Linked DNA regions of Homo sapiens. The protein of the gene in region 1 interacts with the protein of each later gene in a pairwise test. Each region holds a gene or a part of one and is shown in the gene's direction. Other genes may lie near its edges.

The links. Proteins that work in one complex are often made in the same cells at the same time.
Region 2: the proteins of TBC1D2B (region 1) and TRDMT1 interact in a two-hybrid assay, tested with the Homo sapiens proteins (one large-scale study listed by BioGRID and IntAct).

The regions. Positions count from the first base shown.
Region 1 is NC_000015.10:78,021,376-78,026,795, reverse strand, and holds part of TBC1D2B (TBC1 domain family member 2B), read left to right. Parts: intron 1-1,298; coding exon 1,299-1,537; intron 1,538-2,256; coding exon 2,257-2,640; intron 2,641-5,420. UniProt on the Homo sapiens protein: GTPase-activating protein that plays a role in the early steps of endocytosis.
Region 2 is NC_000010.11:17,195,173-17,199,632, reverse strand, and holds part of TRDMT1 (tRNA (cytosine(38)-C(5))-methyltransferase), read left to right. Parts: intron 1-4,460. UniProt on the Homo sapiens protein: Specifically methylates cytosine 38 in the anticodon loop of tRNA(Asp). Has higher activity on tRNA(Asp) modified with queuosine at position 34.

The DNA.
Region 1 (5,420 bases):
CTGAGTAGCTGGGATTACAGGCATGCACCACCACGCATATTTAGTAGAGACAGGGTTTCTCCATGTTGGTCAGGCTGGTCTCGAACTCCCGACCTCAGGTGATCCACCTGCCTCGGCCTCGCAAAGTGCTGGGATTACAGGCGTGAGCCACCATGCCTGTCCCCAAATACCCATTTTTTAAGAAGGGGAATCTAGTTATGCTTTAAAACATGCATGTCTTAGTTTGTTTTATACTGTTAAAACAGAATACCATAGGCTGAGTAATTTATAATGAACAGAAATTTATTTGGCTCATGGTTCTGGGGCTAGAAGTCCAAAAGCATGGCACTGGCATCTGGGGAGAGCCTTTGTTTTGTATAGTCCCTTGGTGGAAGGCAAGAGAGAAAGAGAGCAAGAGAGGGCAAGGGTGAGGGAGAGCCAGGGGACCAAACTTGTTTTTATTGCAAACCTGCTCTGGTGATAACTAACCCACCCTGGTGATAACAACATTAATCCATTCACAGGGGCAGAGTCCTCATGACCTAATCACCTGTTATTAGGCCTCACTTGCCAATACTGTTACATTGAGGATTAAATTTCTAACACATAAACTTTGGGGGACACATTCAAAGTATAGCAATGTTTGTATGTTAAAAAAAAAAAAACAACAAAAACCAACATACATTTGAGTGTTTTTGCTTTTTTGCTAAGGACAAATTAGCAAAAATAGGATGCTTAGTATGTCTTAGTTTTCCATGAAAAATGATCCTGTGATACAGTCTTCCAAGGAAGGATCCAGTGGGGGGAATCAATCATCTCTGGCTGAAGCATGTTGGTTACTATCTAGAATGCAGTGGGGGCAGAGTCATCAATCTCCTGTAGTTCTTAAGGTGGTGAATGCCAAACTCCCTGGAGGATGATTTGTGGGGATGCTTTATTTTGTTATAGTTTCCAAAAGGAAGATGTGGTTTTTGTTTAAAATACAAGTTTTGGCCGGGCACGGTGGCTCACGCCTGTAATCCCAACACTTCGGGAGGCCGAGGAGGAAGGATCACAACGTCAGGAGATCAAGACCATCCTGGCTAACACAGTGAAACCTCATCTCTACTGAAAATACAAAAAATTAGCCAGGCATGGTGGCGGGTGCTTGTAGTCCCAGCTACTCGGGAGGCTGAGGCAGGAGAATGGCATGAACCTGGGAGGCGGAGCTTACAGTGAGCCGACATTGCGCCACTGCACTCCAGCCTGGGCGACAGACCGACACTCCGTCTCAAAAATAATAATAATAATAATAAAATACAAGTTTTATTTTTATGTAGGAGTAACTGGCTCAGGATTCCCCTTTGATTTTGGACGTAACCCCTACAAAGGAAAGCGCCCTTTGAAAGACATAATTGGGTCGTACAAAAATCGTCACAGCAGTGGTGACCCTTCAAGTGAAGGCACATCAGGCAGTGGCAGCGTCAGCATCAGGAAGCCGGCCTCCGAAATGCAACTGCAGGTCCAGAGCCAGCAGGAAGAGCTGGAACAGTTAAAGAAAGACCTGTCCAGTCAGAAGGTAACTTCTTCTTCTGGCTTCTGTCTTACCCCACCTCAGCAGGCCAAGGACGGGAGGAGTAAAGCCCAATTTATGTTTCCCTGAGTCTTTCTGGGGACAGCTTTGTTTCCCAGGAGTTGCTTTTCCCCTGGAGGTTTCATATTGCCATGGCGGTCATCTAGGCACAGCTGCTGTGCTTGATCATTGGTTCAGAGGTGTTTGCATTTGCAAGGAGAGTGAAGATCTCTCAAAGGAGGACAGAGGAGGTTGCTGTCTGCACCACAGCCCAGTCCTGCCCCTGAGGTTGAATCTCCCTAAACACAGTTTCAGCCCAGAGTTCTTTAACAGTCATTAAAAAGAGTTTCTGCATCCTATTCAACAATGGTTTCTTGAACTAATCAGATCTAATTACATTTAATTGTTCAGCAGTTCAGTGACTCTTAGAGCACAGGTTTTTTAATACCCATGACATTTACTGGATACCATTGCTAATTATAGTGGACATGTCCATTATTTCCTGTTTCCTATTACTGTTCTCTACAGACAGTCTTTATGGAGTAAATATTTTTTTCCTCTATTTTTGAGATCCTTCAAGAGGAAGTTCAGTATTAAAATGTTTCCAGTAAAGTTTCTACATTTCCTCAAACTCTGTCGATTACTCCATGTAATGTCATGATTTCTGCTTTTCCTCCTCTCCTTGCTCTTTTCACCCTTCACTCCATTCTCCTTTTGGCTCCCAGGAGCTTGTTCGACTGCTCCAGCAGACAGTCCGGTCATCCCAGTATGACAAGTATTTCACAAGCAGCCGGCTCTGTGAGGGGGTCCCAAAGGACACGCTCGAGCTTCTGCACCAAAAGGATGATCAGATTCTGGGCCTTACCAGCCAGCTGGAGAGGTTCAGCTTGGAGAAGGAGAGTCTTCAGCAGGAAGTAAGGACGCTGAAGAGCAAAGTGGGCGAGCTCAACGAGCAGCTGGGAATGCTCATGGAGACCATCCAAGCCAAGGACGAGGTCATCATCAAGCTCAGCGAGGGCGAGGGCAACGGGCCTCCTCCCACCGTGGCGCCCAGCTCCCCTTCGGTTGTGCCTGTTGCCAGGGACCAGCTGGAACTGGACAGGCTGAAAGTAAGAGTGGGGCAGGGGCTCTGGTGATTGGCATGAGAGACCACCGATGTCACCCCAGAGGCCTGGCCTCCGTGAGCTGATTTGGTGTGACGGCAGAACAGCTGCACACTTATTTTTTTTCCCCACAAGTGTAACAGGACTTACCATCAAATAATCATTAATCTTCTGTGGAGCTTCCTTGGAAAAGGAAACTCTTGCTGTTGCTTTGAACAGTTTCAAATCCTTCCCCTCCCTTGTTTTCAGGCAACTAAGACTTCTCTTTCTATATATACCACCCTTAGTACTTCATTATCCCTTGTATCATATGGAGGCTGTTTCTTGCCTCTCCTGTGTGCATGAAATCACACACAAACTTAATTTGCACAGCTTGCTGCAGGACCTAGTGGATGCCTGGTTTGGGAGCATTGCTCCTAACAGCTAGTATGGGGTTAGCTGGGGAAGCGGACTCCAGCTTCCAAGTAGGCCTGGGAAGAGGGCCTGTTCAGAGTCAGTGCCCCCAGCACCCAAGATGGGAGGGTCCTGACACTCAGTAGGAAGGACAGCTTTCCTCCCCGTGTCCTTCTCTGGGCTAGCCCTTAGGCTGGGAGGCTATTGCCTGAACAGAAGTGACCCTCCTAGTCATGCCTGGGGTGGTGACCAGCTGATGCGGTAGGAGGAACACACAGCATTTGTGAGAGGTGGGGGCAGCCTGCATTTCTCTTCTTGCCTGTAGAGAAGCCTAATGATTCAGAGGGGAGGCCACAGGGAGGATCATAACATTCTTGCTGCCACCGGTTCTTGAGACTTTGTGGGAGAGGTTTTAGGTGGACAAGTGGCCCCCAGGACATGGGGCATCAAGTATAGCCTGTTTGACCCCAGCAGACCCCAGACATGTCTGTAGCTACTGGTCTCACCTAGCCCCAAGGCGTCCCTCACCTGGCCACCCTCATCTTGCAAATAATGTGTCTCCGAGGGTGTTTGGCTCTGGATGGAGCTTGTCCTTGGAGGGCAGAGGTTTGCTGCTGTCCAGGTTGTTACTGAGTATTTGCTTCATGCCTAGCAGTACCTTTCAGGCGATGCATTGAGTGAGGGAATGATAGGCATGCTAGGGACCCTGAAGATAATTCCAAAACAGAAGTAAAAACACCGGAATCATGGCAGCATGGCTGGAATATGTACATGGTCCCCATAGTGACCACTTCTCACTGACAACACCCATTGGATATGTGAGGCCCAGAGGATTTATGAATGAGAAAATCCAAAACAACAAGAAAACCTCTGGTCTCAATACTTTACACTTATATCTACTATTTAAAAAAAAAAAAGTTGGCTGTGCATAGTGGCTCACGCCTGTGATAGCAGCACTTTGGGTGACTGAGGTGGGCACATTGCTTGAGCCCAGGAATTTGAGACCAGTGTAGGCAACATAGTGAAACCCCCGTCTCTATACAAAAAAAAAAATGGCCAGGCATGGTGGCTTGCACTTGTGGTCCCAACTACTCAAGAGGCTGAAGTGGGAGGATTGCTTGAGCCCTGGAAAGCAGAGCAAGGCTGCAGTGAGCGGAGATCCTCACACCACACTCCAGCCTGGATGACAAAGTGAGACCCCGTTGCAAGAAAAAAAAAATAGGCTTTGTGGTTTTTGTTTGTTTGTTTTTTTAATAAGAGGTCTTGGTTAGCATTGCCAATGGAAGTTGGGTTTTTTAATGTACACAACATTGAATATACATGACCCTAAATATATACCCATCAATAATACACATTTTGGGATTACTTAATGAAAACAGAAATTTTTATTTTTATGTATTTATTTTTTTTGAGACAGTGTCTTGCTCTTTTGCCCAGGCTGGAATGCAGTAGTGCAATCTCAGCTCACTGCAGCCTTAACCTCCCTGGCTCAAGAAATCCTCCAGCCTCAGCCTCCTGAGTAGCTGGGACTAGAGGCATATGTCACCACACCCAGCTCATTTTTATATTTTTAGTAGAGACAGAGTTTCGCCGTGTTGCCTGGGCTAGTCTTGAACTCCTGAGCTCAAGTGATCTGCCTGCCTTGGCCTCAGAATGCTGAGATTACAGGCATGAGCCATTGCATCCAGCAGACAGGTGAAATTTTTATTTTGCAAGTGTGTCTATTTCTGTAGTGCGTAGAACAATACTATAGTGGTGGGTTTCCAGGGCGTGCGTGACACTTGGCAGTGGGGGAGACGTGTGGAGCAGGTTTTCCCGGGGAGCGAGCCAGGGTGTGCGTGGAGGTTATGCTTCGTGGCTGTGGCGACTATGCAGCTCCTTCTGTAGACAGCTAACGGAGCTGATCGGGATACAGCGCTGTCAGAACAGGACATTCCCTCCTCTTTTCTTTTTGCAGCATAATGGGTGGAGTGGTTTTGAGCCATGAAGTTTTTTTCCTCCAACATTTCTCAACTTAACAAGTTTAGCAATTTTTAACAACTTAACAAGCCTGTGGCCCCAACATATCACAATTGTGAGGTGATGTGGCGACAGACGATGAAGAGGCAAAGTGGTTGTTAGGTGGATTCCAGGTGAGACAGTTGAGGCCTGCCTGGGTCCATGACCTCATGCTTTCTGACATTGCTCTGTTATTGCCAGTGCTGGGGGTCCCTCTGCAATGCAGAAGGTGTTCACACCTCATGCAGGTCTCCTCTGCAGTGGCACTGGGAGAACTGGAAAGGCTCCAGGGAGAAAGAGGGAGCGCACTGACAGAAGTGGGTGTTCTCGTGTGTGTTCCCTCATAGCCCTTCAGCTCTAGACAGGGTATGGTTGAGGAAGAAATATTGATTCCT
Region 2 (4,460 bases), on another chromosome or scaffold:
CTTGTGAGTTCTGGCTTCTGTCTTCTCTTCAATTTTATCTGCCACTCTCCCTTCAGCATCCCGCTTCACCGTCAACACCCAAAGCTGAAATTCTAATTAAACGATTCCCTGAATTCTTTCCTCAGCCTTTCTTGTCGAGGCTTACTGTTTTTCTTTCTCTCTACTCCTCAAACCCTCGAAGTTCTTCGATGTTCTGGCCTTTGCTTTTGCTGTTGCCTCATCCAGAGTGCTCCCTAACCCCAGACTTTTTCACTCTAGCTTCGGTTCACATTTCATGTCTTAGTTCATATATTGGCCTTCCCTGGCTGACCCTGTGATCCAAAGCAACTTTCCTGCCTCCCTGTACCTCTCTGCTCTCTCATCTTTTCGGTGGAAATCTGCATATTAGGGATATAGACTCTTAATCATATTGATGCAAATATTTTTCCACACTTGTTTGCCTTCCCATGTTCACTTATTTGATGTACTAAAGTTTAAAATTTACCTGTAATAAAATGCATTGCTCCTTTCCAGGTGGTTTTTAATATAATAATAAAGACTAATAACAGCAGCTAACTTTAGTGTTTATTAGGGATCTTTTAAATTCAGGTCCTTTTTTAAGTATGTAATAAACTAGTTAGCGGTAGAACTGGTATTTTAACCTAGGTCTACCTACCTGACCTTTTAACTATGCTATGTTGCCGTTGTTCTGGTTAGAACTACTAACTTCCTTGGATCTATACATTAAATAATATAATAAGCAGCACAAAAGGAATAATATTGAACTTCATTTTTGACTGATTTCTAGATAAGGTTCATAATGGAATTTTTTTATTGTGGTAAAACACAACATGAAATGTATCATTTAAACTATTTTTAAATGTATAGTTCAATGGCATTAAGTACATTCACAATGTTGTGCAACCATCACCCTTGTTCATTTCTAAAACTTTTTAATCATCTCAAACAGAGCTCTGTACCTGTTAAACAATAACTCCAAATTCCCTTTCCCCCCAGTCCCTGGTAACCTTGATTCTGCTTTGTCTTTATGAACTTGTCTACTCTGCGTACCACACATAAGTAGAATAATACATTTGTCCTTTTGTGTCTGGCTTATTTCACTTAGAATAATGTCTTCAAAGTTCATTTATTTTGTAGCCTGTATCAATATCTCAGTTCTTTTTGTGGTTGAATAATATTCCATTGTATAGCTGTACAATTTTGTGTATCCATTCATCTGTTGATAGACACTTGAGTTGTATCAATTACCTGCTGACCATTGTGAGTAGTGCTGCTTTGGATATTGGTATATAAGTATTGTTTGAGTCCTTACTTTTAAGTTTTGGGGTATAGACCTAGCAGTGGAATTGCTGGATCATATGATAATACTGTGTAACTCTTGAGGAACCACCAGCCTGTTTTCCGCAGCAGCGGCACAATTTTCCATTGCATGAGCACTCCGTTTCCTCTACCTCCATATTCTCCACTTGTTATTCCATTTTTTAAAAATAATAGCCATTCTGATGGATATGAAATCATATCCTATTGTGGTTTTGATTTGCATTTTCTTAATAACTAAAGATGTTGAGCATCTTTTCTTTTTCTTTCTTTTTTTTTTTGAGATGGAGTTTCGCTCTTCTTGCCCAGGCTGGAGTGCAGTGGCGCGATCTCAGTTCACTGCAACCTCCGTCTCCCGGGTTCAAGCGATCTTCCTGCCTCAGCCTCCCGAGCAGCTGGGATTACAAGTCCCTGCCACCATGCCTGGCTAATTTTTTGTATTTTTAGTAGAGATGGGGTTTCACCATGTTGGCCAGGCTGGTCTCGAACTCCTGACCTCAGGTGATCCACCCACCTTGGCCTCCCAAAGTGTTGGGATTACAGGTGTGAGCCACTGTGCCGGGTTGTTGAGGGTCTTTTCATGTGCCTGTTAGTCATTTGTTTTCTTCAATACAGAGAAGTGTCTGTTCAAGGCCTTTGCCCATTTTGGAATTTTCTTTTTGTTATTGAGTTGTAGGCTTTATATATTCTGGATCTTAATGTCTTATTGGATATATGATTTGCAAATATTTTTCCCCACATTACTGAATTTTCAGTTATAAAAAGTATATTTAATTTCTTTAGCAACATGATAGATTTGCCTCAAACCCAGTGAACATTTAAAAAATATGTCAATAAAAGTTTTTCATCCTTATCAGCATATCCAGTATGCTGTTGCATTTTTACAGTCACTACATAGATGCTTCTGTATTTTCTAAATTTCATTTAACTTTATTTATATCTATTTTCCCATGTATTTACATGGCTTAAATGTAACATTCTTTGCTGTTCCTTTCTGTTCCTGTACAGCCTCTAGCACAGTACCACACTCTTTCTAGCTTACTATTGAGGTTACTATTGAATTGATAATCCTTCTGCTATCGTTTTATCAAATGATGAAGGTTTATTTAGCCCAGATTCTTTTTTTGTATTATATGTAGTTCTTAGTTGCAACCCACAGAATCCACTCTAGCTAACATAATCAGGAAAAAAAAAATTAAAAACATTTGGAAACTCACAGAATCTCCAGGACACCCAACAAACAGGTTAGGTGAACAGGAGCACTGCCCACACTATAGTGTGGGTATGGCCACAGTGAAGCTTTATCCCGACATCACAGCTTACACCAACAGTGCTGGGTTCTGGAAGCCAGAAGTGCTGTCGCAGTTTTCCCTTGAGAGGTGGATGCCTCTTACCACCTCCCTTGCCAGAAAGATGGGTTTCCTCGTTTGTTTAAGTTCTTCCATTGCTACCTCTGAATTGAAGTCTCTCCTCACACTGCTAACTCTAAACTGAGGTCTTATCATGTGGATGCAGGTGGTTGGTAGACACTAGATACCACGGCCAGACAAGGGAAGCTGAGAAGGTGAGTTCTGGCTTCTATTTGGGGAAGGAAGGATCCATACTGTGGCAAATTTTCAAACACAGGAAACATAGGCAAAGATTCTAGATGGCCACAGTATAACAATGTCTATTACATTTTTAAATACATATTTGACCTATACAGAAACTACTTATGTGTACTTTGATATTTATGTCTGCACAGTCTACAAAGTTTTGGCTAATGAGAATCTTCCAAGTGAAAATATCTTCTTTCAGAAAGCAGTGGAAGAAGTAGTGTCACAGGTTATATATCAGTGGAGCCTGCAAGGTCACCTGCAAATATATGCAAATAAGATTCTGTATTTTTCTCATTTTAAAATGTAGTATCAGGAGAAGAGTAAAGTGTGGTTTAAGGTGGTGAATAAAGGAAAGCTCTAGCTGGATGACTGTTTTCTATATAGTCAAATATTGGAGTCAGCCTTAAAAGCAAAAAGGCCTGTCTGCCAAATAGCTTCTAAAGCTCTTCCAAGGAGTTGGCTTTGAGTTTTACCCCATAATACTTCATTGTGTTTAGTAAGAATTACTCAGCCTTAATATTTTCTTTTAAAATGCTAAGCATCTCATTTGTCACGTATTAATTATTCATTTTCTGAATCTCTTTTGTCTTTGTTCCTCAACGACTTACATGCCAACTTGGGAGTCTACTAGACCAGCTTGTAACTGGGTGTGTTTGTAACTGAATCAGGCAACTACATTACGATGAAGTGTATTTGTATGTAGATATGAATGTCACCTAAGGATATTTTTATAGCATCAGTTGTTAGGGGCTGGCCTATGAACCGCTTAATTTTTTTTTCAGTTATACATACCTGTCTTTGGGATTATAAAATTTTCCTTTTCATGCCTCTTTCCTTCTAGTTACTCTTATATAGCAAGTCATATTTAAAGTGAAGCAACGTAAAAAGTTGTCCTATTAAAATAAATTTATCATTTCTTCTCTGGCAGCTGTGGAAGTTAATAAACTTGAAATACAAAAAAGAAATACGTAAGATGAATTTTGAGTATTCAGTAAAAGAGAACTTTAACTTCCCATTAGACAATTGAATTACTTATCTTTTCTTGTGAGGAATAATGTGTGCTTACTTCACTGCAAAGTATTTTTTGGGGTTAGGGGTAAATTTTTTTTTTTTCAGCTTCTAGATTCAAGGGGTACATGTGCAAGTTTGTTACTTAGGTATATTGTGTGATGCTCAGATGTGAGGTATCAATGATCCCACCACCCAGGCACTGAGCATAGTACCCACAGTTAGTTTTTTAACCTTTGCTGCCCCCCTTCTCTCTCTAGTAGTCCCCGGTGTCTATTGTTGCCATCTTTTTGTCCATGAGTATCCAATGTTTAACTCCCACTTATTAGTGAGAACATGAGGTATTTGGTTTTCTGTTTCTGTGTTAATTCACTAAGGATAATGGCCTCCAGATGCATCCATGTTGCTACAAAGGATATGATTTTGTTCTTTTTTATGGCTGCGTAGTATTCCAATGGTGTATATATACCACATTTTCTTAATTCAGTCCGCCATTGATGGGCACGTCTTTGCTATTGTGACTAGTGCTGTGATGAA